Homo sapiens: one gene and its partners. The protein of the gene in region 1 interacts with the protein of each later gene in a biochemical or structural test. Each region holds a gene or a part of one and is shown in the gene's direction. Other genes may lie near its edges. The genes, in order: TYRP1, PDZRN3, ARHGAP21, MAGI1, PDZRN4, FRMPD3 and PTPN3.

Region 1 (3,500 bases):
CTTACAGAAGAAACCTATTAAAATATCACATCACTATATAAGAGGACAGATATTTTAATTTGCTTGGCTATAGTAATCACTTTACTATGTATATTTATATCAAAGCACCATGTTGTACACCTAAAATATGTAAAATTTGAAAAAAAGTTGAAAAATATCAAAATAATTATATCAGTCAGGCAATATTTTTAGTGAAAAGACATTGGCTTTTTATTTGGCACAAAGTGAACCTCAACTCAAGCAGTTATTTCATGCTTATTTTCTAAGCAGATAAGCTTCAAACATATTAAAGTATCTAGTTACGTAGATTCTTTACTCTTATTTCTTTTACCAACTGCTCTGTTCCTTGAGAAAAATATGGAAATTTTAAAATAAAAGTTTAAGTTGTTAGATCTCAACTAGGAAATCCACAAAGTAAACCTGTTTTCTATGTGAAATAACAGCAATGAATCTCCCCCTTCAAGTTAAGATATAAAAATTAAGCTAAAAATATCTGAAGAAGGGAAAGGCGTTTAGATTCATTTATTAATTTGCAGAATGCTGTGCCAGCATTATTCCGAGAAAAAATAAATGGTTAGAAGAGAGAGAATTAATGCACTAACATACAGGATAAAATATTCTTTTGAAAGTACACTATCCATTTGCAGTTTGAGAGTGATTAAATGAATTCATCTGATACTCTGAACGTCATATTTTATAGCTCTGATTGCAAGTAAGACATTTAGTAGATTATAGATAAATCTGTCATTTGTAATTGACTGCAGATCTTCATGCCTTCAAGTCATTTTCTCATGGGCACACCAAAATGAAAGGGCAGGTGGAAAGTATCTAAAAGCTTCAATTTTGCCTGTGTAAACTTCAACCTCTATGACTTACATTTTAAAGACCCAACAGCACAAGGGATGCAACAAATTAGAATTTAAATGTAATTCGTGGTTGAAATGCCACATGAATATGCTCTGGCTCCCAAATGTCAGTTGCTGAACCACAAACCGATTCTTAATGATCCCTTGGAAGCTGTCACTAATTTTTGTGAACCACAATGATGGCTTCTAAAGGAGGACTACAAACCCCTGGAGACCAATAACTGGGGATAACTTGGAAAGCTTTTGGCTCTCTAAAACACCCAAGGATAAGAAAATGCTTCCTAGGAAGGGATTTAAAGTGAAAAAGTAGAAATATACTGAGTGCTTGAGAGATAAGATAAAACAATTGCAATCCCTACATTTAAATCCCATACCATAAATAGAACTTCTCAAGGCACCAAAGAAATGAGAAATAACAAGGAAATGTATGTTTTAAAGAACCGAATGAAATAAGCATGTGATCTTGAGGCCAGCATTTTTAAAAATGTGAGATCAGCTTTGAATGGAAACTAGGTCTCTGATCTAAAAAACAATGGGCAGAAAGATTTACTCTGCTTCTGTTTAGCATTTTTATCAGTATAAATTTAGGCAGAAGCCTGAGTCTTAAAAGTTTAGATTCTAAGGCAGGGTTCCCTAAATAAAACACCTTCCGTGCTCAGTGTGAAAGAGTCCATTGGCCTGTTGCCAAACCAGAATCTAAATGCCTAGTCATTCAAATTAAATTTAAAAACAGAAGCAAAACAAAAATTAGCACTCCACAAAACATATTTTAAGGCTGGATCTGGCTCCAGACTAAGAGTTAATGATGCTTGAATTAAAGATAGGAAAATGGAAGAAGGTGGAAATGCCAAGAAGTGGATGTTGTTATTGATAACTTTTTTGTATAACCAATATAAATGTAATTATCTGCCTAAAAAAGAAAAAGAAGACCCTTTATCCCTTTAAATCATTTTCAGAAATGTCTGCATAATGAGTTGAGTTTCATTCCCTCTAATGCCTAAATGACACCTTGTAATAAATTACCAGCTTTGTTAAATAAGGTTTTAACTCCTCTGGGCCCCTCAGACACCGTTGATATACTAACCAGTACCTTATTGTCTGAAGAGAGCTAATAGAAATAGACTGTCAGAGAGTAGACCAAACAGAAATGAATAATTGTAAACAGAAGCAGAGAGTATTAATGTGGTTTCTGTGATCTAGGAAATGTTGCAAGAGCCTTCTTTCTCCCTTCCTTACTGGAATTTTGCAACGGGGAAAAATGTCTGTGATATCTGCACGGATGACTTGATGGGATCCAGAAGCAACTTTGATTCCACTCTAATAAGCCCAAACTCTGTCTTTTCTCAATGGCGAGTGGTCTGTGACTCCTTGGAAGATTATGATACCCTGGGAACACTTTGTAACAGTAAGTTCCAAATGATAGCTTGGAGTCAGAATTTCTTTTTAGATAAAGAGATTAAATATGTTGCCTGAAAGGCCCTTCATTCTACTAGAGAATTCAGACTAAAATCTACTTTTATTATAGAGTAACAGTGTACCAGGCATTCATTAAACACCTAGAATGTTCAAGGTACTCTAGAAGTTGCTCCAGGGGAAACAGAAAGTGCCTACACATTTTTACACTGCCTTTCTTGAGTAGTTTGGTCAATATCTTGCTAACTTTCTTATTTTGGAAATGTCTAGTTGTATAAACTAATCCTCTTAGTTTTCTTAGCACTACTTAGAAGTCATGTGTCTTGTGTTGGAATTTCACAGAAAATGTTTCCTAAGAAAATGTGAAAAATAGGCAAAAAGTTGGAAATGCCCTGGGAAGAAAAAAAAGAAAAGAAGCAAACCAAATGTATGCTTGCAGTTATAAAGTTAGAAAACAAAAGCTGATATGGGGGATAGTTTTCAGAAAAGGAGTATATTGTACTGATGTCTGCCCCCTAGCTGCTTTCCAGCTCTTCCAAAGTGAACACAGTAAGAGTACGCCTAATCAGTTGTCCCAGCATCCTTTCTCCAGTGATCTGAATGCCACCACTGTCACAGGTCAAGTTTCTGCCACATGTAGATCTCTTCCTGAGCTTTCTGTTCTCCTCCTTGGATCATATTATTATTTGTGCCTGTGGTAGTAACACAAGGTTTAATTATTAGACACCCCCTACCTCATCTTATTTTTCTTCTTCAGGCATGTATGGCTCTTTTGATTGTTCTTCCATATAAAAATAAGAGTTATGTGAATTTGTTTTCTTATTATAATCACCACATACTTATTCTACATGTATTATTTTATGCATCAAGTATTATTTTATGAACTTAAATAAGAAATACTCTAAATAAATCAGCAGGAATTAGATACATATTTTCACCATTAGATTATTTAGCAATGTATAGGAATAAGAGAAGTGATAATATATGAAAATTTCCTCTGTAGAAGTTTAAAACTTAGAATAAATTTGTATTTGTTTGGTATGCTGAATGCATGATCCCACCTTGTGGCAGAGAACTGAAATTGAGGATCAGGATGTCTGCAGATGCCAAAATGTTTATACTCTTTGTGACCAGGCCATTGTATTTTGGCCTGAGAGTTTTCTAGACATTTCCCAATCACCCTGATGATTGGATACCAAAATAAAACACAGTTTAAATGAG
Region 2 (3,500 bases), on another chromosome or scaffold:
GAATTCCTTCTCCATAATAACTTGCCATATGCCGCTATGGCCTGAACTGTCATTTACTTAATATTTTCAATGGACTTTTTAAAGAGCGAAAGGATTATTAAGAGGAAACTTCATATTACTTCCATGAAGGGAAGACTGGTATCATCTGACACAAACTGGAAAAATACACACTATTAAAACATAACAATGTAATGAATTTCTAGTTAGCTATTATTGCCTGATAAAGGCTCGGAGCCTGAGGCTGGCCTTTTCTTTCACAGGCAAGATTAGCAAGTGATGAAATTGTGTTAAAGACATTCCACGGGGAAGCTAAGCCTTCCCGCTGTGAGATTTATTATTGCATGCCAGATCTGAATACCTCCAAACTCACTCTCTTTCCACCAGGCATTCTTCGGGAAACCTAAACACAGAGAACTGAAGTTCTCTGACACCACCACCTGCTTCTTTCTTTTAGCTGCTTACACATGAAAGCAGGCAATTCATGTATTTGTCCTTCCGTTTTCTGCTTTATTCTAACCTTGTCCCACCCTAAATATTTTTCCACAGGTCAACGGCAGAGACTTATCCAGAGCAACTCATGACCAGGCTGTGGAAGCTTTCAAGACAGCCAAGGAGCCCATAGTGGTGCAGGTGTTGAGAAGAACACCAAGGACCAAAATGTTCACGCCTCCATCAGAGTCTCAGCTGGTGGACACGGGAACCCAAACCGACATCACCTTTGAACATATCATGGCCCTCACTAAGATGTCCTCTCCCAGCCCACCCGTGCTGGATCCCTATCTCTTGCCAGAGGAGTAAGTAACCTAATCTTGAACCCCTAATGCATTAAGAAGTATTTCCAAGTTGGTTTCTTTCTCTTCTATGTGGTGAAAAAAATTAATGCACCCTATAGTTTTCCTCCAAGTTGCCCATGTTTAACTTTATTGTTTATAGAGGCAATAAATCGAATCCTGCTCAAAACCGCTCCGACATATTAATTACTTTATTATAACCCTGGAGCGGACTTATTCAAATTATATCCTAAGAACAGAATTACTTACAAATGTTGTAAAAGTTGTTTCAGAATAAAATGTAATCACCCCAAATGGTAATTTGAAGATCCTGCAGTTATTACTAGGGAATGTTGATCATTCTTTTAAATAGACAAAAAAGTAAGTTGTGTGTGTCAAGAGAGCCCTGGAGGTTGTGCCTTCTGCTTTCTTGGGTCTCATTTCAAGCCTGGATCCATGTAATAAGCCCGCACATGCCTCATCTAAGTACTGCATCAACCAATTAAATAACAGCTGCAACTCAGCACGCCACATGGATTTCTTTACACACACCTCTTCTCTCAACTTATTTCTGCCAGCGATAAAGAGTCCTTCAGAGGCTTCAAGTCAGACAAACCTGATGCTCAAAGTGATTTCTAGTTGTGGAACTTGGGTAACTTACTTTGTTTTGTGGGGCTGTATTTTTCCTATATTAAAATGGAGATAACAGTATCAATCTCTTATCATTGAAGGATTAAATGAAACAATATGTGGGAAGTGCTCATGGGGCATATGGTAAGCACTCAGTAAATGGTACCAGCGATCACCGTTAATTTAGTGGGTGATGTAAAATATTCAGGAAAAAATGAAGAGCAAGACACTTTCTGTGATAGACTGCTGGCCCCCAAGGTGTCCAGTTCGACATAGCTTTTAACATAGCTTTTCAAGGCCAGGCGTGGTGGCTCACACCTGTAATCCCAGCACTTCGGGAGGCCGAGGCAGGTGGATCACAAGTTCAGGAGATTGAGACCATCCTGGTTAACACGGTGAAACCCCGTCTCTACTAAAAATACAAAAAACAATTAGCCAGGTGTGGTGGCGGTCACCTGTAGTCCCAGCTACTCGGGAGGCTGAGGCAGGAGAATGGCGTGAACCCGGGAGGCGGAGCTTGCAGTGAGCCGAGATCATGCCACTGCACTCCAGCCTGGGCAACAGAGCGAGACTCCGTCTCAAAAAAAAAAAAAAAAAAAAGCTTTTCATGTGTGACTTTGCACATCTGAGGACACAGCCTCTCCAGCTGATGTTAGGGTCGCCCCTGTGTTTTCTCATCTCAGCTCCATCTCGGATCAGATCATTGACTTGATACATTATTTCAAAGGGCATTTTCACCTCTTACAGGAGAATCCACTGGGTAATACCTGTTGGATTCCTACTAGTAACTCAGTAGCTGGAGTGAGCACATGTTTCCTATGGTTCAGTCAAGTTCTGGATAAAGGCTTGCCCTTCATCCCTTGGTCTTAGTGGCTAGCTGTCATTGGAACCCAGGACTAATTCCCCAGGCTTGACAGAGTAGGTTTGGCAGCAGCTGGTAGCATAAAGACAGAGGACAGGGCATCCGTCTCACATTCACTCACAGTGTGCACATGTGCAAAGAACTATTATCTATCTCCTTCATTTCTCATGACTGTCCCTTTATACAGATGAGGAACTGCAGACTCACCAGGTTCCACTGAGCTGATGGAAAGGCAGGTCAGTCAGACCCCGACTCCCAGCTCTGAACCACAGTACCCTGTAGTGACCCATTCCATCCTCTGGAACAACTGGCTGATTCACTGAGTATGATGATCCAGACCATTTATCTGACGTTACAGACCAAACTGCCTCACATTATTGATGAAGCCTTTAAGGCTACTTCTGACTCTTAAATGTTGACCTGTCACAGTGATGGGCCTTTTAGAAGCTAAACCTGTAATTTCCTCTTAGGTCTAGTTAACATGACATGACTTATCCCCTGGGGGCGACTTGAGAAATGTCAGAAGAGTCCAGAGGTCAGGCCTCTTCAGGTTCTGGCTGCAAGGTCAGACAACAGCAAGAGCGTGTGTCGGGACTGAATGGGGAATGTTAAGTTGATGCTTGAAAGCCCAGACCTTCCAACAGTATCCTCAGTACTAAAAGCCCTTTAAGTGCAGGCAGTATATTTGCCTGATGGGTCCAGAAAATTGAAAGCCAGCCCTTGTTTGAATGGCCACTCATGTCTGATCTGTTGTTTCAAAACTAAGTGCCTGGGAGGGAAGACTAGAGCCCATTGATTGCTGTGCTGACCTTTGAGGACGTGAAGGTTTGGGTCCCCAGCCAACAATCAGAGGCTGAAGCTTTGCATCTGGCACCGTGGACTGTTAAGCTCCTTTCAAAGCTGCTGATGGAGTATGTTATGATTCCCACTGCCTTGGCTCCTTGAGGTTGCATTAATGACGTTTCCAAAGATGTCGTGAGTTCTGTGGACTGTGTTTTGCATATGTTGTCCTAGGGAAACATAAGCTTCCAGTCTCCTAGCAGAGTGAATGTGTGTGTACTCATTATATGTAAACATATACACACAGATGCACTTATGCCTACATGTTTGTATGTGCATTTCAACCATGTAAGTGCATACTGTACGTTTGTGATATCAAACATATTATTGTGGGTAACATTCAAAAAGACACGGTCCTAGGTAACAGCAGAACAGTTTCATTCTCAGCCTTTTGAACT
Region 3 (3,500 bases), on another chromosome or scaffold:
TATCCTTTAAATTTTACTTTTGAGATGCCTATGTTTTCATTGAAGGGTTGAGGATTACTTTAGACAATAACATACCCAAATGAACCCTCATTCACTGTCTCACTTTCTTTTGCACCGGATGTTAAATTTTAACTTCATAGTCCTTGAAACAAGGGCTGGCTCTAAGTGTGTGAGTTTTGGCATTTTAATAAAAATGAATCAGAAGTTAAATTTTGGTTCATAAAGCAAGCGGAGAAACTTGCTTCATGCAGCTTACTTCATGTCGAATTAGAAAGTTTATGCAGAAAACGTTGTGAGGTACAGTGTGCTATTACTGTACAATTTATTAGGCAGAACTGTAGGTTTACATTTAGAATCAGTGTTTTACTTTTTGACATCTGTAAACACCTGCTTGCAGGCAAAAGCATGATTAAGTGGAACACCACAATCCTCTGATCACGGTAAACCATAATAACTCCTTTTGGAAGGCCTACCTGCAACCTGGTGATTGCTTAATGTGTATTGCAGTTACATAATAATATGTATTGTGGTCCTGAAGCCTTATTTGTCATTGTCTTGTGAATACTTTAATTAGCATTGTATTTGCATTCTGTTTGCAAGAACTAATGTTATTTGATTTTTTTTTTTTTTTTTGGTCATTTAAGAGATGTCCTGAAACCAAGAATTTAGACACATCTTGTCCTTGGCTAGCAAGCAGTATTTCCAGTTTGTTGCACACTTGGCTTTTATTAACAATGACAGTTATGTATTTTTTAACGGCTGTGAAATTTGTTTTCATTTGGACCTTACTGCTGGCAGCATGGCTATCTTGTTTTTAAGTTTAGCAATGAAGAAAACACAATATCACCTGTGTTTTGCTTATGTGAAATATATATACAGTATTTAGGTTTGGTATTAAACTACAATATTATTTGACTTTCTAAAGAATAGGTATTTTGCCTAGATTCTATGTGGAAGTGGAAATAAAGGGGATATATGTTGTCAGAAAACATTTTAAAACCTCAGGGTTGGGAGTGAAGAGAACTTGTGTAATTATTGCCTGTATTTAGTTGTGACGTGTTTTAATCTGTGATTGATGCTTCTGATACACATTAAATCTTGTGAATATTTTTTAGTAATAGGGAGTTAGTTGCTAATGAAATACTTTGGGCTGATATTTAGGTTTTTGAACATTGCATTTAATTTTTGTCGTCAATTTTATTAGAAGCACTACATTCCACAGTGGTACTATCACTCTTTAAAAAATTTTAAAAATCAATAATGTGTTTGGATACTACATTTATTATTGTGTTTTTAACTAACAAAGAGATGAGCATGTGTGTCTTAATAGTAATGCTGTTAATCAGCCAAGAAAACCTAACTTTATAGGACAGAAGAAATCAATGTAATGAATTAACAGGAGTCTCTGTTTCATGCTTTATCTAATTAGCCAACTCCACCTTCTCTGAATAAGGCCTTGTGCTTTGTTGAAAAACAATCAGAGATTTCTTGTTCATCTTAAGCATTGCAATTTTATTGTGTTGATATATGATATACATTTAGGCCTCCCCACCCCCAGGATATATTGGAAGCCTCAAAACAAATAAACAGCCCTCTTCAAATAAGAAATTAGGACAGTTCAGTAGAATATGTCTTGGCATTATACAGTAAGGATGGTCCAGATGGTACTCACACGAATTTATATACTTTTATACATCTCAAGGTGTATTTTTAAAACTTGAAATCACTCACTCTGAACCTCTTAAGTGATTTTTGGGGTGTGTGTGTGTGTGTGTGTGTGTGTGTGTGTAGTCCGTGAAGTCTTCTGACACCAATCCTTGAGTAACTTTGCTCACAAAATCACTTTATATAGATTCTTCTGTTGAATCCTCTATGATATTATCACCCCTTTTCATATCCATATAGCTTCATCTTTCAAGGTTTAACTTTTTTTTTAAGCCAAAGAAGAGAAAACTTTCCCTCAGCTTTCTTAACCACATGATTTTTTTTCCATTTCTAACATTTATTTCATTTTTTATCTGTAGTCCATACTCTTGTCCAGTAATAGAATTTTTGTCACTTTATTATTAAACTTTTTACTAATGCAAATGAACTTATTTTTGTTTTGCTTCTTGACCTAGGCTAAGATTATTCTATGACTGAAATGTATTATGGCTGATGAAATACACTTGTTGGTTGATTTTGAAATACTGTAAACAATACAATAAGACATTTTTCTGGGTACGAGTTTGTATGAATCCATGTGTTGACTCTTCCTTCTGGAATGCTGGACAGTTTGCTTTTGCTTTCATCCCAGACTCCCTAGTTCCTTCTCAGGCGCTCTCTCTTCTCCTCCCCTCCTTTCTATCTCCCTCTCTATCTGCCTCTTTTGTAGGGTTTTTCTTCCTCTTCTTGCCCCATTGTTGGTTTTATCCAGAGCCAAGGCCTTTCCATTCCTGTATTCTCTTTCTCACTCCCTGGGTTTTATTTTGCACTCTCCTGTGTGCTGGTGACTCCGTATCTACCCCTCTATCTCAGGCTTTATGGTTGATCTCTAGACCTTTTCAGCCAGTTGCCTATTTACCGAACACTTTTGGGGGATATTCCCCAGGCATTGCAAACTCATCAGATTTCACCGCTACCGCTGACTCTCCCTCTTCCTGTGCACCTTCTTTCGCTGAGTAGCACTACCATCTATTTATTGGTCCAAGTCAAAAACTAGGTCAGCATTCTCACTCTTCCGTCTCGTCATTCCTCATATGCAAAGTCTTGTGGAGTCCACATTCCCAATACCCACTACCCCCACCTGAGTTCAGGTCAGCTGCATCTCACTGATGAACCACAGAAACAGATTCCCTACGGAGTTTCCCAATAACTTAGCCTTGTCCCCTTCCGCAGCTCTGTCCCTACTGTAATCAGAATGATCCTCCTGATGGGCAGATGACCTGAGGTCAGGAGTTGTACACCAGCCTGAGCAACATGGTGAAACCCGGTCCCTACTAAAAATACAAAAATTAGCTGGGCGTGGTGGCGCACACCTGTAGTCCCAACTGTTTGGAGGCTGAGGTATGAGAATCCTTGAACCCGGAAGGCAGAGGTTGCAGGTAGCCAAAATCGCGCCACTGTACTCCAGCTGATCGTTACATTACCTCCTATAAGACAATTTTCTGTCTTCCCATTTCCTTTGAAATAAAATTCAGACCTCTGTGAAGTCTGAAAGGACTTTGGTAATTTGGTCCGCGCTTCTGTCTCACTTGTTACTTCTTTTTGTTCTTCCTAGATTGAACTCCTGTCAGGTCCTTTCTTCTACCCTTCCCTCTACTGTCCCCTGTTCCTCCTCCCTCTGCTCCATGGCTGATTTTTACTCATCATACTGGTCTTTTCTTCAATACTGCTTCCTCAGGAAAGCCTTCCCTGACCCGCAAGACTCTTTCAGTTGCCCCTAGTGTATTCTCTCAAAACACCCTGCACTTTCAGGAATACCAGTTACAAGTTTATCTATATCCCCCTTGGATTGCAGT
Region 4 (3,500 bases), on another chromosome or scaffold:
GAAACCCTGTCTCTACTAAAAAAAAAAAAAAAACAAAAAAATTAGCCGGGCGTGGTGGTGGGCGCCTGTAATCCCAGCCACTAGGGAGGCTGAGGCAGAGAATTGCTTGAACCCGGGAGGCTGAGGTTGCAGTGAGCTGAGATCGCGCCACTGCACTCCAGCCTGGGTGACAGAGTGAGACTCATCTCAAAAAAAAGACCCAGCAAATAATAGGTGCTCACTAAAATTGGTTGGATGCCTGAATGACTATTCCATTGTTTCGGAAGGTAAGTGCAACTAGGCCACTTGCAACATCTTTCCTCCCTTTCTCTCGATTTGTCTTTTACTTCTTGTTTAGGATCCAGAGGTCTTCACTTTCTCGTAATCAGATCTTCCAATTAGCAGGCTTTCTGTGTCTAATAATTTATACTGGGCTATAAATGACTGACAAGGATTAATGAATCCTATTCAAGTATTTCTGCCTGTTGACTCTAACTGAAGTTTAACAAGTGAGCCTCTAAACGTGAAATTTCAGATGTTCAGCAGGCAGGATGATGAGGATTTTTTTTGTTGATGTGGGACCTGTGTCCTCATGCCTAAAAATGATTCTTTCCCTCCGTTTTCTTGCAGCATTGTCCCTGTGTACTTTTTTTTTTGGCTAATAGCAAATCAGATCTTTGCTACAGAACACAATCCAATTTTAGCCCTCTCGCTCTTAAATTGTACTTTGTATTTATGTCTTTTTTTTTTTAACTTAAACTTTCAAAAATCAACCTGTTTTTGTTCTTGGTGCCAAAAGACCACTCTTGGAAGGATATTTTTAGGTTACACTGTGGAACACTGTACAGGTTTTACAAAAAATGAAGCAAGGACGTACAACGCACTTGTCCATCGTTTCCAGTGGCCACCCCTTGTCATTGGCTGTGTTATTTAAAAATAGATTAACTTGACCTTCTGTGGCAATGGCATACAGTTGGCTCACCGTGTTTCTTGGCATTCATTACCCAGCTGGTTTTAGATGGCAGAATTGATGATATCCACCAAGGGGAATTAAGTGGTTTATAAGAGAAAACATTCTGACATCTCCTTACCACAAGGGTTTACATGAAGGATGTTGCTTTGTAAACGAGGGTTATTTAATGCAAAGCACCACTCTCTGGTGTTAGTGGCCCTTTCCTTGAGTTTGTATATACAAGTAACAGGATATACTGATTTTGTATACACTGAGAATAAAGGCTGTCAAATTCGTTAAGGGCTGACATTCACATCCTAAAAAAGTAGGTTACTGCATGCCTGCCTGTCTTTTTGCAGCTCATATGTGAGATCTGTAACCTTGAAAAATCCCTAGTACACACTGGTGCATTGCTAGACTTCTCCCCTATGGAGGTCGGCATCGATGTAGTATTTCTTATGAATTCATTTTGTTGTTTCAACAGATGTCAAGGTTGGTCCTATCATATTGACTCTGCTTTCTAGTTAAGTGTCCTGTGGAGGGTCTAATGTGTTCTGGATGTCAACTTTTCCGAAGGCATGTAGCAAAATTAGAAAATGTAATTTGAGCAGTGTCTTTTATGATTAAATAGAAATCTTCTCTTTTTATGGCTCAGTAATTACATAATGGAATAATCCATTATTAATCATTTCTGTAGTCTCTGTATCTGAGTGAAAGCCGAAGTCCTTATAGTGACTTCCAAGGCTGCCCGTGACCTGTCCTAAGGATATTACTTCTCTTTCTCTGTCCTGCCTGCTAGTGCCCACCTGATCATCTTACAGGCTTGCTATCTCTTGAGCTTCAAGTCTTTCTGAAATGTCACCTGCCCAGTGAGGCCTCTTGTGAGCACATTATTGAAAACCATAACTCCACTGCCACGTGTCATTCCCTGTTCCCCCTCTCAGCTTTATTTTACTCCATAGTATGTAGATCGCTTCACCACAAGTAAATTTCTTATTTTACCTCTTTCTCTAGAATGTAAGCTCTGAGATGGCAGGAATGTTGTCTTGTTCTCCCACAGTATCCCCAGTAGCAAAAACAGTGCATGGTGCCTAGTACTTGCTTGGGTATTTGTTAAATGTTTACAGTCAAGTTTAGAACTAGAATAAATCTCTTCTGAGGTCAGTTACCTCTGAAAATGTAGATATATAGAAGTCCCTGAAAATTTAGGTGACTGATGATGGATCACATTAAAGTTGGTTAGAGTTTAACATTTACAGTCAATGGCTGGGGCTAAAATAGAGCTTAGCCGATTGATCCAGGAATATTCTTAAAGTCAGTGAACATTGCTGGCCTGCTTCAGTTGGTCTTAGTATTATGGGTTTACAAGTAAGAACATGTGGGTCCTTGGTTTCTTGTCAAGAAGGGGAGGGAAGAGTCCACTGGAGTCTCCTTGGAGTCAGAGATAAGGTCACATTTCCAATTTTAGGTTTCCCTGCATGGAAGAGGTCCTTGACTTTAAAATTAATTGAGTGTCCTGATTTTCAGAGGTTACTTTGATTTGGGAAATGACGGTAACAAGGGGTACCAGGTGGCTGATCCAAACAGGAGAGCTGAGGCTACTAGAGTCACCATGAAGATCTTGTCGAGTTAGGGATAGGTCTGTGCACAGCATCCCTTACTTAGCCAAGTCATTGGCCTCAGTCCACTTTCAGTCCTGTGTGCTCCCCACCAACATGAATCCCTAGAAGGCAACTCTAGGTCAGGATTTGAATGCACAGGGCTTATCTGGGAGGTGCTCCCAGGAAGTTCCAGTAGGGCAAGGAAGAGGTGAGACCAGTGAGTCAAGAAGGCCAATGGAGATGCTTTAAAGAGCAAGTCACCACTGTGTGTCTAAGGCAGCCCCATGCTGAGTGTGTCATGGAACTTTGCAGACTCTCTCACCCCTAAACAGACTGAGAGGTTCTTCTGGCTGTGTGTATAGACTTTTTCTGTTACCATCTCCAGTGTCATGAAGATGAGTTCCATAAGATAATTACATTCTCATGGCTAAGGTATCAACCCCACCATTACTGTGGATGGAGGCATTTGTGTGTCTGTTTAATGGGCCACAGTTATGCTTCTTACAATAAGGATAATCTTTACTCCTTTATGAGACAAGACTCGAGGCTCTCTTTATGGACAGGGGCATGATGGTGCAATTAAAAGGCGATCGTGCCCTGATTATAAGCCATGTTTCAAAATTACTGCTATATATAGTGTCATCAGGACCGTAGTACTGCTCATAAAATGATCCACAAATAGCAATTTACTGATGTGTCATAGAGTCAGATTTTGGACCCAAGGTTGGCTTGGGTGAAGAGGCAGGCTTTACACTTTATGAGCTGGGTGTTCTGGGGCAAGATGCTGAACCTCTTTGTGCCAGGTTTCCCCCTCGGAAAATGGGGATAATAATGATACCTACTCTCTAGGGTTGTTGGAAAAGTAGAAAGTAAACCACATGACACAGGGCTTGGCACATAGTGAGTGCTCAATAAATGTTGGCTTCTGTAATTGTTTGAATGCTCCCCATTTGAAAGCCCTTGGGAGA
Region 5 (3,500 bases), on another chromosome or scaffold:
CATTTCAAAAAAGGATGATAAATCTCTGTTGAGGAACATTTCTGATGAGGAACTATGATTATATTTTAAATTTGTAATTAATATTTTATATGTAGAGTTTGGAATAAATTATACAATACTTTTAATATTTCTTGGTGTAATATGGCTACCTTGTTCCTGTCATTATCTTTTATATGAAAGAAAAAGAGAAATACCTTTTTTTCTCTTTGTTGTGAAAACCTGGTGAGAACTCTTTGTATGTTTTAACTGTATTGTTGTATTCGGGGGTGATAAAGTGAGCACCTATATGCTAGTAAAATTGGGTTATGTTAATGAAATTTTATGTCCCTGCCATCTGCCATCTCTGTCCTTTTGACATTTTATTAACTGGTTAAGATAATATTACTTTTTGTTGCCAAAAATGGTTAAGTTACTTTTATCAGTGAGTTTATTTCCAATGGATTAGTGAAGCTATAAATAGGAATTTGGAAGGTTTACTTGACTCCACTATTGTTTTTAAAAATTCTGTTCACTCTAGGCTATATAATCACTAGTGCTATCTCTCTGAATACTTATATAAACTATCAGAATGGAGGCAGATTTTCTATATTAAATTTTAAATAAAGTTTTAGCTTTTCATTCATCCTCTGTGCACTAAACAAAGTTGAATTTTTAATGAATCGACATAGAGTAAGAGTGAAGAATATAGAAGACCCAATAGTTTGCTGTTTTGGGAAAAAAGAACACAACATTTATAAATTAGCCGACTACAAAATTTAGAAAAAAAAGAAGAGTTATCTTTTGCCAAAAAAAAAACTTTGATTTATATCTAAAGAGGTCTCTTGTATCAAGATTTTTATTCTTCCAGTTTTGTTGCCGAGAAAGTGCAGACCTACTTTTGCTGTTGCTATCCAGTTCATCTTGACAATTTGTCTAGTGGAAACATTCACATGCTGTAGCTTCTAAAGTTAGAATGTGCACAGTATGATCTAAAGGGCAACATACTTTAAACAGAAGATTGTCCCTATTACTTTCTGCATTATCTCAAAAACATATTAAGTTGTCCAGTTACCAATGGAAAATAAATTCCTACATTTGATATTATTAGAAGAACTGATGGAACTGAATACATATATTGTTACACCCACACAAACACATAGACACAACAGAAATACGTATTGGCAATTTAAAAAATAACTTATTCTAGCTAGATGACAATATTATGTATGCTTCATTAATGTTACATTAGAAAAGAAAAAGAATTTTTTATATTGTCATACAACAATTTGGTTACAAACCTACTGTTTTTTTTAAAGAGGTAATTTTATAAAACTATGGTTGAAAATCAAGTGCATCTAGACACCTACATAGTACTGTTACTAATATATGTCAGATTAACCTTATTTAAACCCTGTAAGATAAAAAGTAAGGAGGTCAACCACAGAAATTCAAATGAAATTTAACTAGCTGCGGTATTATTATTCACTTTCATTTGCATATATTAGCAGTTAATGACTAGAGCTTGAAATTTGTCTCAATGATATAGATTTTTCAATGTGTCTTTTATACCAGGGTACATTGATTTTATGTATATATGCTATAGTTGTAGAATGGATCAATGTGACCACATTTGCAGTTAAGAAATGGGTTAGATGAGGTGCATATTTCTAGAATGTTGTGTGTTAAATAGCATGAAATATTTTAGAAAGAAGATTATTAGAAATAAATTGCTCTTGCTTAGTTGTTCAGTGATGCTATCGGCTTTTTGAGTGAATAGATATTTGTGTGACTTTAATATCTAGTTAAACAAGAAGTGTGTTTTTTCTTGTGCATATGGTGTGTGTTGTAAAAGATCCCTATGTAATCATTAAAGTTAGAAATATTTGATGCTTATCATTATTTTAGTTTCTCTGTCATTATGATATCAATCAACTTTAAGCAGTTTTTAGCTAATTGGAAATTGAGAAGAAATCTATCAATTTAAAATGTGCAGATGCATATTTTAAAACAGATTTTTAAAGTAAAGATAATAATTTATTTTCTGTTTTGTGATCAAAGATTTGTTCATTGAACAAATTTAATGGCTCAATTTTTGAATTTCAAATGGTCATGCTGATTTAAACCTGGTGCAACAAGTAAGTTTGTTAACAGTGTAAAGGGTACAAACTAGTTCATATATTATAAAATTATCCGTATGACTTATGCACAATCTGACACATTACTAAATGCTTTGAATTTACTGATATATAACTGAAATAAAAAATAAAAACAATAAGAGATTCTATGGTTTATATATAGTCAAGATATGCTCAAAAATATTTTCTGTAGCTAATTGCTTGATGCACACATACAAGTTTATGAATTGTTTTTAAAAAATAATAAAATTTTCCAAAGTTATTCACTTGAAGAGGAAGTAGACATGTTAAAGGTTTTGTTCTGTTGGTGGTTAAAAAGATTTTATAAACTCTAATAAATAATATATTAGTTATAATAGTTTTGCCACAGTTCAACAAAGGCTAGTAACACGTATTATTTTTTAATATTTGCATTCTATTGATAAAATTCAAGAATAATAAAAGAATAAAAAATTACTGTCATTAGGTAAACCTATGTCATATTTTTCACATAATATAAGGCAAGTTAATTTTTGGAGTCAGTCTCCACAAGCAACTATGTTAACCAGTTTCTAGCTATTTCCACATCCATATTTGTTAAACTATTTATGCTTGTAAATTTTAAAAAATCAGTTGTGATAGTTGAGTTACACTAGGTGTCAAAATATCACTGGAGACTGAAAAGGCAGAAGATATTGTTGAAGGCATTTTGAAACATCACAGAAATTCACATACACCAAGAATTCACCACAGTATACAGCTGAATAAAAGCATGCTGTTTTTCATTCTTTCAAGAATCAAAGGAATCACAGAAAATCCCTGATCCTATCGAAGGTTGGGCACAATTCTGGAAGAAGGCATGACCATTGCTGTAGTTATCATCATGTTAGGATGCCTAAGTGGTATGTGGGAGGGAGTTGAGAAACAAAGTTCACTGTTGCTTTTAGCATCGATTCCTCTATTCTTTCTTTCTTTCTTCTTCTTCTTCTTTTCCTTGTTTTTTCTGGGTTTTTTTTTTTGGAGACAGGATCTTGCTCTGTCACCTAGGCTGGAATGCAGTGGCATGATCACAGCTCACTGCAGCCTCTACCTCTGGGACTCAAGGTATCCTCCAGCCTAAGCCTCCCAAGTAGCTGGGACTACAGGTGCACCCCACCTCACCTGGCTAATTTTTTAAAAATTTTCTGTAGAGATGGGGTTTCACCATGCTGCCCAGGCTGGTCTTGAACTCCTGGGCTCAAGCGACCTGTCCACCTTGACCTCCTGAAATGCTGGGATTACAGGCGTGAGCCATAGTGCCCAGTCTCCTCTCTTATTTCTATGATACTGATAGCAGGCAATGCAACCATAACTCCAGAGTGGGAAAGGGTGGATAATCATTCATGGCTCTTTGTTTACACTTTCTTC
Region 6 (3,500 bases), on another chromosome or scaffold:
CCATCAAAGTTTCGTGTGTGTGTGTGTGTGTGTGTGTGTGTGTTTTTTTTTGCATATGGATATCCAATTGTTATAGCACCTTTTGTTGAGAAGAGTATCCTTCCTCCACTGAATTGCCTTTGTACTTTTGTTAAAAATCTGTTGTCTATATATATATATATATATATATATATATATATATATATATATAGATCTATTCCTGTACTCTCTATTCTGATCTGTTGGTCTACTTGTCTGTCGTTATGTCAACATCACACTCTTGATTACTGGAGCTTTATAATAATTCTTGAAATCAGGAAGTATTTGTTCTCCAACTTTGTTCTTTTTCAAAGTTGGTTTGGCTATTATAGGTCCTTTGCATTTTCATGTGAATTTTAGAATCACCATGATAATTTCTACCAAAACCTGCTGTGATTTGGATTAGGATTGTGTTGAAACTATAGATCAATTTGGGGACAATTGACATCCTAACAATATTGAGCCTTCCAATCCCTGAACACAGTATTTCTACATTTAATTATACCTTCTATAATTTTCCTCAGCAGTATTTTGTAGTTTTCAGTATATAGGTCTTTCATATGTTTTGTCAGATTTGTCCCTAATTATTTCATATTTTTTGATGCTATTGTAAATGATTTTGATTTTAATTCCAATTTTCAATTATTTCTTGCTAGCATATACAAATAGAGTTGGGGTTGGGCATGTTGGCTCACGTCTGTAATTGCAGCACTTTGGGAGACTGAAGCAGGAAGATCACTTGAGCTCAGGAGTTCAAGACCAGCCTGGGCAACATAGTGAGACCCCCATCTCTATACAAAAAGATTTATTTTTAAAAGAATAGAAATACAATTGATTTTTGTGTATTGATCTTATATCCTGAAACCTTGGTAAACTCACTACATTTGGCCCTTCATATCTACAGGTTCCATATTTGTGGATTTTGAAAATATTCAAAAACAATAAAAAATAACAGTGCAATAATAAAAAATACAAAATTTAAAAATATAATATAATAACTATTTGCATAGCATTTTTATTTTAGTTTAGTTTGAGACAGAGTCTCGCTCTGTCACCCAGGCTAGAGTGCAGTGCCATGATCTCGGCTCACTGCAACCTCCACCTCCCAGGTTCAAACAATTCTCCTGCCTCAGCTTCCCAAGTAGCTGGGACTATAGACATGCACCACCACGCCCAGCTAATTTTTGTATTTCTTAATAGAGACAGGGTTTCACCATGTTGGCCAGGCTGGTCTCAAACTCCTGACCTCAAGTGATTCACCTGCCTCAACCTCCCAAAGTGCTGTGACTTTAGGCATGAGCCACAGCATCTGGCCTACATAGCACTATAGCAATTTTTTTTTTTTTTTGAGATGGAGTTTCGCTCTCGGCTCATTGGAACCTCCACCTCCTGAGTTCAAGTGATTCTCCTGCCTCAGCCTCTCAAGTAGCTGGGATTACAGGCGCCCGCCACCATGCCCAGCTAATTTTTGTATTTTTAGTAGAGACGGGGTTTCACCATGTTGTCCAGGCTGGTCTTGAACTCCTGATCTCAGGTAATCCACCAGTCTCCGCCTCCCAAAGTGCTGTGATTACAGGCATGAGCCATTGCACCTGGCCTTATATAGCATTTTAATTGTATTAGGCATTATAAGTAATCTAGAGGTGATAGAGGTATACAGGAGGATTTGCATAGGTTACATGCAAATACCACAGCATTTTATATAAAGGACTTAAGCATCCACAAATTTCAGTATCCATGGGGGTCCTGGAAGAAATCCTCCATGGATACCAAGGGAAAACTGTAGTTGTAGTAGTTTTTTGTAATAGAATCCACTGAATTTTCTACATAGATGATCATTGATGATGTATTCCTTTTCCACTCTCTCCTATATTATAGTGATATCACTGTGGCTTCCTAGTCCCTTAGTCCATACTGGTTCCACTTTAACAAAATGGGAAACTGGTCTAACCAAGGCTGACTCATTGATAGCTGGGGCTGTGACCCTCAGGGTTTGGGGGTTGTCATACCCTTGGCCAGTAGTTCCTGGAGACCTCCTCTAGGATAGCATAGGGAAGATTGACTCATCAACATTTTTGTCCTTCAGACACCAAGAAGAAGAATGCCTCCCCCATCCCTGCAATTCAGCTCTCACCCTGGGCTTCTGGGCCAGGGCCCTGTGGAGAGTCCCTCCCAGTATCTTTCTCCCCTTGTTTCCATCTGAGCTAGTAAAGGAGCCTTGTATGGCTTGGGGGTGAGTATAACCCCCATGAAAAAAAGTAGGAAAGTCTCTTATAAAAGGAGGAAAGAAAGGGAGTGGTGCCATGTCTCACTTTTGCAGTGAACTGGACTGTCTGCTTGTACCTTGCCATTGTGTGCCCCTGTCACTGAGAAGGCTATCTAGTATCTGCTGAATAAAGTGAACAGTGTCTATGAGACCTGAGCCTCCTCTGTTGTCTCTTCTCCAAGGGGAGCTCCTTCCTCTGTCCCTTGATCTAGCATGCCTTACTGATACTATGAGTATTGTCTGGGATGTAAGGGAGTAGATCAGGGGGTGGGGAAGGAATGTCTCCTTCAGCTGATAGGTTTGGACTGCCCTCTCTCACAGAGTCGGAATGATGTTATTCGAGAACGCTTTGGAATGGATCCCAAGCCAGAGATGCTTTTGGGCCTTGCTGCGCTCCACATCTATATCACTGTCTCAGCCACTCGACCTAGTCAGAAGATCTCGCTCAAGAATGTGGAGTGAGTTGTGCTGCGGCCCGTTGGGATGGGGGGCGAATAGTTGCGTAGGGAAAAGGTACACTGGTTGAGCTATGCTATGCTTTTCAGAAATGTAGGACATGGGATGGGAGTGAGAATTGGAGTCCCTCATATCTAGACTATGAAGCCCTAGAGCTACAGCTTCTACTAGGGAGCTGTGGCTAATGTTATTTTCCTATCCCTGTCCCTTTTTCTTTCTCCCAGTCTCTATTCCTCCATCTCTACCTCTCAGATTCAGTCAATTTCTGTCTTACCATCTTCTCTCTGTCCCACTTTGCCTCTCTCACTAATCTCTTACTTTTCTTCTGCTTTTAGGAAGGAGTGGGGCCTGGAACCCTTTCTTCCCCCCTCCCTCCTGCAGGTCATCAAAGAGAAGAACCTCCGGAAATCTCTCTCTCAGCAACTGAAGGCTCACCAAACACATCCTTCCTGCGGCACCAAGGTATCCAGAGTAGACCACTGGGCATGGTGCTCCAGGCACTACTGGCCACAGGGAGATCCTGGGTGGTTTCCCAGCAGAGTCTGGTCCTCTAGGGATCCTCACCACTGCTTTTGACTCAGGTGCACATACGGCTTGGCCAGGTGTGGGGCAGTTGTGGAGAGGAGTCTTCCCCAAGCCTGAGCATCCCAAAGAGACAGCTGAGTGACACATCACTGAGAGAGCTCAGGGTCCTCAAAGCAAAGGGGCCAAGATGCAGGAGATAATTCTCAGGTCCTTTTCACCAATTAGTCAGTGCCGA
Region 7 (3,500 bases), about 97 Mb from region 1:
ATCAGACTGTTCCAGTTACTTTCCTAATACATTGATAATCATTAGGGAACTTGTAAACTGAATAAGTAGCTAATTTCTGTTAGTATCAGTGATACTATTTGTGGTGCTAAATGCTATCTCTCAGCTTCTGATGAACCAAGAGTGAATATATTAAGTTTTTAGCTCTTATAATACTGTTTAGTATTTGTATACATTCAGTAGATCTACTGTTGAGCAAGCCATGAAAATAACTTACTGGATTATATCATTGACTTAGGTTGGGCCTGATCCTCAGGCCAGATGAGAGAAGGAATGGGGAGGCAACTGAAACCATGCCCTCTGTTGCTGAGCTGCCTGGGTTCAAATCCTGCCTCTGTCACTTGAGCTTTAATTTGTTGCTTCTATTTCTTCATCTGCAAAGCTTTGTCATCTGCATGCATCCAATGCCAGCAGGGCTGGGTTCTGGTCTTGTATTGTGGCACAAGAAAATACCCCTATTTTGGTGACTGAAAGCAACACCCATTCTGTTATATCTCATGACTTTGTGAGTCAGGAATCCTAGAAGGGCTTGGCCAGAGGCCTCTTCTGCTCTGTGTGGTGTAGATAGGGATTTCTCAGTGAATGTGGCCAGAGGATCCAAGATAACTTCTCTTGCATACCTGGTGTCTTGATGGAATGGTTGGAAGGCTGGACTCACCTGGACTCCTTAGCATCCCCATCTGGATACTCCAGGAGGGTGGTTGAATTTCTTACATGGACACTCAGGGTTCCAGGAGCGAAAGGCAGAACCGTTCAGCCTTCTTAAGGGTGAGACCTGGCACTGGCACAGCGACTCTGTTGCTGAAAGCAGTCACAAGCCAACCCAGATGCAAGACTCAAAGAACTTGCAGTCATCTTTAATCTGCCACAGGGGATCATTTGGGTTGGGAGGATGGCTTGGGAGGACAAGTCAGCAGTTCTTTTACTACCTGTGCCAGCTTCAGCATACTGGTGAATTTCAAGTCTCATTACCTCCATTTTACAGATGAGGACACTGAGGCTTAGAAGGGTCACATGACTTGCCCAGCCCCTAGAGATACAGATACACATCTGCTTATTGGGCCTTCTGAAAGGTTCCACATAAAAAGAAATTTGTTGGGTTATTTTCCAAGCTTATGGGACAATGGAACACTTTTTTTTCAGAGAGTCCCTATTAATAACCCATGACACATTAAACCTTGGAGTTGGGCAGTTTGCTCCCCTTGTTTTGATCCTGTGCTCTTCATCACTGGCAGTGTGGTTTCTGATGTAGGCCTGCCTCAGAGGAAAGAGTCTCCCAGTGATGCTGTTGTGAGCATTTTGATCAGGGTGACAACAGCATTTCTTAATGTGAATTAGTACATGATGTGCTACAGGGCGATTCATATTGTTTATGTTCTTTTGTTTGTTCTTTGTTCTGTTTTGTTTTTGTTGGTTGGTTGATGTCATGTCACAAGGAAATGTGTAGAATGTTTTCATAAGACATTAAATCCTAGTTTAAAATTTAGAGATGCCAGAACCAAAGTTGTCACCCTTTAACAGGGTGACAGGCTTCATGCTCTATTCTCTCAAATAATTCATTCTCTGAGGGGTCTAGATAGCTAAGATTTAAATTCTCTAGGTATAAATAAAATTCAAAAGTAACCTTCAGGGTAGCACATTTCAAAGAACGTAGCCTGAAACTCTGTATAATTTTTTGTTTTTGGAGACAGAGTCTTACTGTGTTCCCCAGACTGGAGTGCAGTGGTGCGATCTTGGCTCGCTGCAACCTCTGTCTCGGGGATTCAGGGGGTTCTCATGCCTCAGCCTCCCAAGTAGCTGGAATTATAGGCATGCGCCACTATACCTGGCTAATTTTTTGTATTTTTAGTAGAGGTAGGGTTTTGCCATGTTGGCCAGGCTGGTCTTGAACTCCTGACCTCAAGTGATCCACCCGCCTCAGCCTCCCAAAATGCTGGGATTGCAGGCATGAGCCACTGTGCCCAGTTTGAAACTACTTTCTAAGCGCATTTTCAGATTCTCTCTCAAAGATTTACCAGTGATTTATAGTGACAGCTCCTGCCAGCTAGGATGATGAAGAGCACCTGAAAAAATGGTTAATATTTTTACTTAGGCCAGTGTGAATAAAATAAGAATTCCTTGAAATCACTGGAGCTGTATTTCTGTGTGATCCTGGAATTCCTTCTAATCTGGTTAGGTTTGGTTATATTCTGGAAACAGCTTTGTTGCTTGAGTAGTGAGGACAAGAAAGGATTTTCACCCGAAGAGAAGAAATCACATAAGGAAATTCCAGGACAGACAGGAATCGCTTTTGAGCTGTCTCCCTCTACTCCCCATAACCTTGGCATTAACCTGCCGTCCTTCAGACAAGAAGCATGTGTAGACTGTTTCACACATGCAGTAATTTCTTTCCTGTTGAACGTCAGTGTAGAAAGTGAACCTGCATCTGGTTTTTCAGGTCGGTAAATAACCAATATTGCAAAAAGGTGATTGGCGGGATGGTGTGGAACCCAGCCATGCGGAGATCCTTATCAGTGGAGCACTTAGAAACCAAGAGTCTGCCTTCTCGTTCCCCTCCCATTACTCCCAACTGGTATGTCCTCCTTTTTTTTTTTTTTGTACTACCCAACAGTAGACACTTTATCTCTTTTAAAAATAAAAACTCAACTTATAAACTCCTAAAGATAGATGACCTACAATTTGCATTTTAGGCTCTTGGCAGAAGTAACTGTTTTCATGAAGTACACAAGTCTAGCTAAATGTTTTCCATCGTGTATAATGCTGAGATGCTCTTTTTAAAAAAACTTATTCAATCTAAATAGTTTGGGAAACTCGAGCCTGCTGAAAGGCCTCCTTTGGAATCACAGCACACATTAGCATATTAAACACTCTGAGACGTCCAATAATAAAAAAGTACGGTTAGCTTTACTTAATTCATGTTTTCCATTAATATCCCACAAAATAAACTTTAGGGAAAACTAACGCAGGTACGTGATGTAAATGATGTAAGGATGTATGACCTTCAGCAGCAGAAGCAAATGCACATCAGTAAGTAGCAGGCCAACTTAAGAGGATGGACTCAGCTTAAAAAGAAATAGGTGGTCGTTTGGTAAAGTGAGAAGGGCACTGGGTTTGTAGCAGAAAGACCTAAACTCAGGTTTTGGCCCTTCTGTTAATTAACAAGTTTCTTTACCTCTGTAGCCTCAGTTTCCCCATATCTAAAAAGATGATAAAAACTACCGCAAATGAAATAATAATGTACAAGTACGTAGTAAGCTTTTAAAAGAGTCAGGTGGAATTATCATTATCTTATTATAATGGTCCTCAAAGACATCACACCATTTTTGTGAATACCTCCAAAAAGGCTAGGGGCCAGAGGGGAAACCTAGCAGGGAATCATTGCCCCCAGCTCCACACTGGAGTAAGAGTGCGTGGCTGTAAATACCTGATCCAGGATCTGCTAAGCCTAAGAGAAACTGGGAGACAGGCAGACAGAGGAGATG

The links.
Region 2: the proteins of TYRP1 (region 1) and PDZRN3 interact in a test that uses a peptide from one of them, tested with the Homo sapiens proteins (one large-scale study listed by IntAct).
Region 3: the proteins of TYRP1 (region 1) and ARHGAP21 interact in a test that uses a peptide from one of them, tested with the Homo sapiens proteins (one large-scale study listed by IntAct).
Region 4: the proteins of TYRP1 (region 1) and MAGI1 interact in a test that uses a peptide from one of them, tested with the Homo sapiens proteins (one large-scale study listed by IntAct).
Region 5: the proteins of TYRP1 (region 1) and PDZRN4 interact in a test that uses a peptide from one of them, tested with the Homo sapiens proteins (one large-scale study listed by IntAct).
Region 6: the proteins of TYRP1 (region 1) and FRMPD3 interact in a test that uses a peptide from one of them, tested with the Homo sapiens proteins (one large-scale study listed by IntAct).
Region 7: the proteins of TYRP1 (region 1) and PTPN3 interact in a test that uses a peptide from one of them, tested with the Homo sapiens proteins (one large-scale study listed by IntAct).

The regions. Positions count from the first base shown.
Region 1 is NC_000009.12:12,696,385-12,699,884, forward strand, and holds part of TYRP1 (5,6-dihydroxyindole-2-carboxylic acid oxidase precursor), read left to right. Parts: intron 1-2,066; coding exon 2,067-2,271; intron 2,272-3,500. UniProt on the Homo sapiens protein: Plays a role in melanin biosynthesis. Catalyzes the oxidation of 5,6-dihydroxyindole-2-carboxylic acid (DHICA) into indole-5,6-quinone-2-carboxylic acid in the presence of bound Cu(2+) ions, but not in the presence of Zn(2+).
Region 2 is NC_000003.12:73,401,442-73,404,941, reverse strand, and holds part of PDZRN3 (E3 ubiquitin-protein ligase PDZRN3), read left to right. Parts: intron 1-546; coding exon 547-794; intron 795-3,500. UniProt on the Homo sapiens protein: E3 ubiquitin-protein ligase. Plays an important role in regulating the surface level of MUSK on myotubes. Mediates the ubiquitination of MUSK, promoting its endocytosis and lysosomal degradation. Might contribute to terminal myogenic differentiation.
Region 3 is NC_000010.11:24,717,388-24,720,887, reverse strand, and holds part of ARHGAP21 (rho GTPase-activating protein 21), read left to right. Parts: intron 1-3,500. UniProt on the Homo sapiens protein: Functions as a GTPase-activating protein (GAP) for RHOA and CDC42. Downstream partner of ARF1 which may control Golgi apparatus structure and function. Also required for CTNNA1 recruitment to adherens junctions.
Region 4 is NC_000003.12:66,028,919-66,032,418, reverse strand, and holds part of MAGI1 (membrane-associated guanylate kinase, WW and PDZ domain-containing protein 1), read left to right. Parts: intron 1-3,500. UniProt on the Homo sapiens protein: Plays a role in coupling actin fibers to cell junctions in endothelial cells, via its interaction with AMOTL2 and CDH5. May regulate acid-induced ASIC3 currents by modulating its expression at the cell surface.
Region 5 is NC_000012.12:41,194,820-41,198,319, forward strand, and holds part of PDZRN4 (PDZ domain-containing RING finger protein 4), read left to right. Parts: intron 1-3,500.
Region 6 is NC_000023.11:107,557,652-107,561,151, forward strand, and holds part of FRMPD3 (FERM and PDZ domain-containing protein 3), read left to right. Parts: intron 1-2,605; coding exon 2,606-2,742; intron 2,743-3,075; coding exon 3,076-3,202; intron 3,203-3,500.
Region 7 is NC_000009.12:109,421,808-109,425,307, reverse strand, and holds part of PTPN3 (tyrosine-protein phosphatase non-receptor type 3), read left to right. Parts: intron 1-2,455; coding exon 2,456-2,590; intron 2,591-3,500.